Regions from separate parts of the Homo sapiens genome. Here region 1 is linked to region 2. Evidence: fine-mapped expression QTL. A gene starts in region 2. The other region holds a variant in brackets. All regions are shown on one strand. Distances are from middle to middle. Region 1 has its middle 29 kb from the start of CACNG6. Region 2 holds the start of CACNG6 (calcium voltage-gated channel auxiliary subunit gamma 6).

Region 1 (2,898 bases), 29 kb after region 2:
GTCTTTGAGAAAAGCCCTTCTTTGCCACAATCACTTTTTTTTTTTCTTTTGAGACAGGGTCTCTCTCTGTCGCCCAGGTTGGAGTGCAGTGGCGTGATCTTGGCTCACTGCAACCCCTTTCCCCCTGGTTCAAGCGATTCTCCTGCCTCAGCCTCCTGAGTAGCTGTGATTACAGGCACCCACCACCACGCCCAGCTAATTTTTGTATTTTTAGTAAAGACGGGGTTTTGCCATGTTGGCCAGGCTGGTCTTGAACTCCTGACCTCAGGTGACCCGCCCGCCTCGGCCTCCCAAAGTGCTGGATTAGGCCTATAAAAGCCATTTTAACTGCGGTGAGAGGATATATGTGTCATGTAGTTTAGCCAGGCATCGTGGTGCACACCTGTAGTCCCAGCTACTCAGGAGGCTGAGGTGGGGGGATGACTTGAGCCTGGAGGCTGCAGTGAGCCATGATCGTGTCCCTGCATTCCAGCCTGGGCAACAGACCCTGCCTCAAAAAAAATACATAAAATAAAAATTAAACTGAAATAGGGTTGCCAGATTCAATGTAGGATGCCCAGTTGATTTCAAAACTCAGATAAACAACAAATAAAATGTTTAAGTCTAAGTACAGCCCCCAAACTGCATGAGATATACTTACATTCAAAATTTTTTTGTTTATCTAAAACTTTAAATTTAACTGGGCATCCTGTATTTTAATGTCCCAAGTCTAGCAATTCTATTTTAAAAGAATCCCTCTGTCTGCTACGTTGAGAGCAGATGGTCAAGGCGGGAAATGAAGGTAGAAGCAGGGAGATGGTTTAGGACGCTATTGTGATCAGGTGAGAAGGGCTGAGTCAGACCAGAGGGTGCCAGCAAGGCTGAAGACCCACCCTGTTCCCAGCCCCGCCCCTCCTGCTGCCCTTAACTGATGTGACACAATCCTTGTGAGGTCTGTGGACAGAGCGGGGGAACTGCACGGAATCTGACAATATCAACCTAAAAATTATTCACTGCCTACTCATTTCCCGTGCAAGGACAAACAAGAGTGCTGAAATGCGAGGCTTGCAAAGCCACAAGATAGGGAGGGCTTAATCATTTGCTTGCCTGCCTTATCAGTGTTACGAAGGCATTTTCCACCTTCCACTTCCTTTTCCGTTTGGACAAAAATTCAAACTTCTAGGCCAGGCGCGGTGGCTCACCCCTATTATCCCAGCACTTTGGGAGGCCGAGGCGGGTGGATCACTTGGGGTCAGCAGTTCGAGACCAGCCTGGCCAACATGGTGAAACCCCGTCTCTATTAAAAATACAAAAATTAGCTGGGCCTGGTGGTGCATGGCTGTAATCACAG[C/G]TATCTGGAGGCTGAGGCTGGAGAATCGCTTGAACCCAGGAGGCGGGGGTTGCAGTGAGCTGAGATTATGCTACCGCACTCTAGCCTGGGCAATAGAGTGAGACTCAGTCTCAAACAAAACAAAACAAAACAAACAAAAAAAACCACACGCACACACACACACTCAAACTTCTTTTATTTTTTGAGACAGATTTTCGCTCTTGTTGCCCAGCCTGGAATGCAATGGCACGAGCTTGGCTCACTGCACCCCCCCTCTCAGGTTCAAGCGATTCTGCTGCCTCAGCCTCCCAAGTAACTGGGATTACAGGCATGCGCCACCACGCCCGGCTAACTTTGTATTTTTAGTAGAGATGAGGTTTCTCTATGTTGGTCAGGCTGGTCTCCTGCCTCGGCCTCCCAAAGTGCTGGGATGACAGGCATGAGCCACTGGGCCCAGCTACATTCAAACTTCTTTTTTTTTTTTTGAGACGGAGTCTCGCTCTGTCGCCCAAGCTGGAGTGCAGTGGTGCGATCTCAGCTCACTGCAAGCTCCGCCTCCCGGGTTCACGCCATTCTCCTGCCTCAGCCTCCCAAGTAGCTGGGACTACAGGCGTCCACCACCACACCTGGCTAATTTTTTGTATTTTTGGTAGAGACGGGGTTTCACCGTGTTAGCCAGGATGGTCTTGATTTCCTGACCTCGTGATCTGCCCCGCCTTGGCCTCCCAAAGTGCTGGGGTAACAGGCGTGAGCCACTGCACCCGGCCCCACATTCAAACTTCTTATCACAACTTGCAAAGTTCTGCATGATCCGGGCTTAGCACCTCCCTTCTCCTGCTGTGCTCTAGCCGGCTCACTTTGCCTCAGCCACGCTGGCCTGTGTCCATTCTTGGAACTAGTACTGGCCAGGCTTGCTCCTGCCCCAGGGCCTTTGCCTGCGCTGTGCCTTCTGCCTGAAGTGTCATTCTCTTTGCATTTCTCATGGCTGGATACTTACACTGTTTTTAATTCTCAGCTTCAACATATTTTCATCCAAGTCTTCCCTTACCCACTTTGCAAAGGAAAGACCCACCTCCCATACACTCATTGTGTTATAGTGCATCCCTCTTGATTTCTAGCATGTCTCTTGTTACAATCTACAGTTTGTTGTTTTTTTCTTTCAGATGGAGTCTTGCTCTGTCGCCCAGGCTGGAGTGCAGTGGTGTGACCTCAACTCACTGCAACCTCTGCCTCCCGGGTTCAAGTGATTCTCGTGCCTCAGCCTCCCAAGTAGCTGGGACTACACGCGTCCACCACCACGCCCAGCTAATTTTTGTATTTTTAGTGGAGATGGGGTTTCACCATGTTGGTCAGGCTGGTCTGGAAGTCCTGACCTCATGATCCGCCAGCCTCGGTCTCCCAAAGTGCTGGGATTGCAGGCATGAGCCGCCGCACCCAGCCAACAGTAACAGTCTTTTCAAAATGCCTGGTCCATAGTACGTGCTCGACAAATATTTGTGAAATCACTGGATACATAAGACAGTTCCAGGGAAGGGGAGTAGCTTGCTCAGAACAGGGAAGCTGCCCAGGAGTCTTTCCCCTGATTCTCA
Region 2 (2,898 bases):
AGGAGTCCAGGCCCAGGCCTTCCTCCCTCAGACCCAGGAGCCCAGGCCCCCAGCCCCTCCTCCCTCAGACCCAGGAGCCCAGGCCCCCAGCCCCTCCTCCCTCAGACCCAGGAGCCCAGGCCCCCAGCCCCTCCTCCCTCAGACCCAGGAGTCCAGGCCCCCAGCCCCTCCTCCTTCAGACCCAGGAGTTCAGGCCCCAGTCCCTCCTCCCTCAGACCCAGAAGTCCAGGCCCCCAGCCCCTCCTCCCTCAGACTCAGGAGCCCAGGCCCCCAGCCCCTCCTCCCTCAGACCCAGGAGTCCAGGCCCCAGCCCCTCCTCCCTCAGACCCAGGAGTCCAGACCCCCAGCCCCTCCTCCCTCAGACCCAGGAGCCCAGGCCCCCAACCCCTCCTCCCTCAGACCCAGGAGTCCAGGCCCCCAGCCCCTCCTCCCTCAGACCCAGGAGTCCAGGCCCCCAGCCCCTCCTCCTTCAGACCCAGGAGTTCAGGCCCCAGTCCCTCCTCCCTCAGACCCAGAAGTCCAGGCCCCAGTCCCTCCTCCCTCAGACTCAGGAGCCCAGGCCCAGCCCCTCCTCCCTCAGACCCAGGAGTCCAGACCCCAGCCCCTCCTCCCTCAGACCCAGGAGTTCAGGCCCCCAGCCCCTCCTCCCTCAGACTCAGGAGCCCAGGACCTAGGAGACCAGGTTCCTCTCCTCTCAGATCCAAGATTCTGGGTACCCAGGCCTTCTTCCTCTACCACTCAGAAGTGGGGTACCGAGGCTTCTTCTCCCTTAGGGACCCAAGACTCCTGGCCTCAGGCCCTCCTCCCTGAGACCCGGGGCCCTGCCTCCCGCCCCTCCTCCCTGGTAACCCCAGTCAGACTTGCTGCCCCGCCCGTCTCCTGCTGCCCGGGAGACTGCGGAGCTGGGACTCTCGGCGCCGCTCTTGCCCCTTAGTGAAATGAAAGTCCCATCAGGCTCGGCCCCTTCCTCCCCGGGCGGCCTCCCTCCCCCCTTCCTCGTCCCCTTAAAACACCCGGGATCCCTATGGCAACAGGCGCCGGGCGACAGGTGCGGGTGTTATTTACGGGTCAAGCCCGAAATAGCCCCGAGGGTGGAGGGTGGAGGGTGGGGGGTGGGCGGGTGGGGACGAGGCCGGGCGCGGGCGGAGGCCAGGCCGGTGGCGGTGGCGGGCACAGCCGGACGCTTCGGAGGCAGCGCGGAGCTGGGGTCGGCGCGGGGCCGAGGCAGGAGAGCGAGAGGGGCCCCTGCTCGGGAGTCGGGGGTGGGAGCCCCGAGGGGGGGCCCTGGCCTGGGGCTGAGCCTGGCGCGAACCCGACCGGGAAGGCCCTGGGAGCCCGGGGGAGGGAGACGGACTGATCCCGAAGGGGCGCAGCGTCTCTTGCGGGTCGCGGTTGGCCTTTGAACCCTGGGGGGACTCAGTCCTGGTTTTCCGAGCCGCAGTGCGGACCACAGCCCCATAGTGTGAGCCCCAGGAGGGCCCCCGGTCCCATCTGCCCCAGCCCTCGGGGAGGCCCCGTAGCCTCCCGCCTCTGGACTCCACTCTGTCTTCCGGCCACCGGCCCCTTTTCCAGGCTCAGTAGAGACCTCGGATCTTTTCTGAATGGCAGGGGAGACCCCTATCCCCTTTTCCTGAATTCCAGCGAGGCCCAGTCCTCTTCTGAGCCCCAGCCAGGGCTCTGTTCTTCTCCTTCTGTGGATGCCGGGGTCCTACTGCCTCTCTTGAGACCCGGATTGAATTCCGACCTCCCCTTGGGAGCTTCCCGGGACCCCAGGTCTTCCTTTTCCGAATCCCAGAGGGTCCCCAAGTCCTCTGTTCTCAAACTCTGAGCCCAAGGGAACCCCGGCCACATCTCCTCCAAACACACACAGGACCTCAGGTCCCTTCCTGGGTACCCCAAACTCTTAGCCCTAGTGGGGTGCTCAGATCTCTCAGGAAAACCAGTTTCCCTTTTGTTAACCCCCCAGCGGGGACCCCAAAGCAGCCCCTTGGAGCTGCAGGGAGCTTCAGCGGGCACCAGTTCTCATTCCTCTGGAGCTCTTGGGGGGACTCCCTCCTGGGAAGCCGAATTCTATCTCTAAACCTCAGGGTGGGGGCCTTGTTTTTCCTCTGGGCCCCGTCTTCTTTGCCAAGTTCTTGAGGGCAACCTAGACCCTCCTCTGAACCCCAGAGGCTTCCCCAGCCCTGGGGATCATTTTTCTCTTCTGAACCCCAGAAGCAATCTCGACTTTCGCATTTGAGATTCCAGACAGGACTCGGCTCTCCCTCTTTCATACCCAGGGGAAACTGAGTCCCTCACCCCCTTCAAGACCCCAGGCCGCTCCTCGCTCCCGCCCCTCGAGGCCCTTCGCCGGCTCTGCCTCCTCCCCCTTCCCGACCCCACCGGCCATAAGATGATGTGGTCCAACTTCTTCCTGCAAGAGGAGAACCGGCGGCGGGGGGCCGCGGGCCGGCGGCGGGCGCACGGGCAGGGCAGGTCGGGGCTGACGCCCGAGCGCGAGGGGAAGGTGAAGCTGGCGCTGCTGCTGGCCGCCGTGGGCGCCACGCTGGCGGTGCTGTCCGTGGGCACCGAGTTCTGGGTGGAGCTCAACACCTACAAGGCCAACGGCAGCGCCGTGTGCGAAGCGGCCCACCTGGGGCTGTGGAAGGCGTGCACCAAGCGGCTGTGGCAGGCGGACGTGCCCGTGGACAGGGACACCTGCGGCCCCGCGGAGCTGCCCGGAGGTGAGCAGCCGCCGCCCCGAGCGCAGGGCTTGCGTCCCACGGACAGGGAGGGAGAGGGGCCCGTGTCCGAGGAGAAAACCCGCCCCAGGGACAAAAGCCTGAGCCCGGAGGAGACAGCTTGCCTCGCAGTAAGCGCCAGTGCCCACTTCGTCCTCTGCTCTCAGAAACTGCTGAG

The links. PIP is the estimated chance that this variant, and not a neighbour inherited with it, causes the effect.
Region 1: its variant is fine-mapped to the expression of CACNG6 in whole blood (TOPMed, PIP above 0.99).

Annotation. Positions count from the first base shown.
Region 1 is chr19:54,019,366-54,022,263 of GRCh38, forward strand. No RefSeq gene overlaps it. Among named protein-coding and RNA genes, the nearest start is that of CACNG6, 29 kb to the left of the region's middle. RefSeq lists an enhancer at 790-1,084. The variant C/G (reference allele first, on the strand shown) is at 1,331.
Region 2 is chr19:53,990,486-53,993,383 of GRCh38, forward strand. It overlaps CACNG6 (calcium voltage-gated channel auxiliary subunit gamma 6), which reads left to right and starts at 1,152. Exons shown (of 4, transcript NM_145814.2): 1 at 1,152-2,723. The coding sequence starts at 2,393.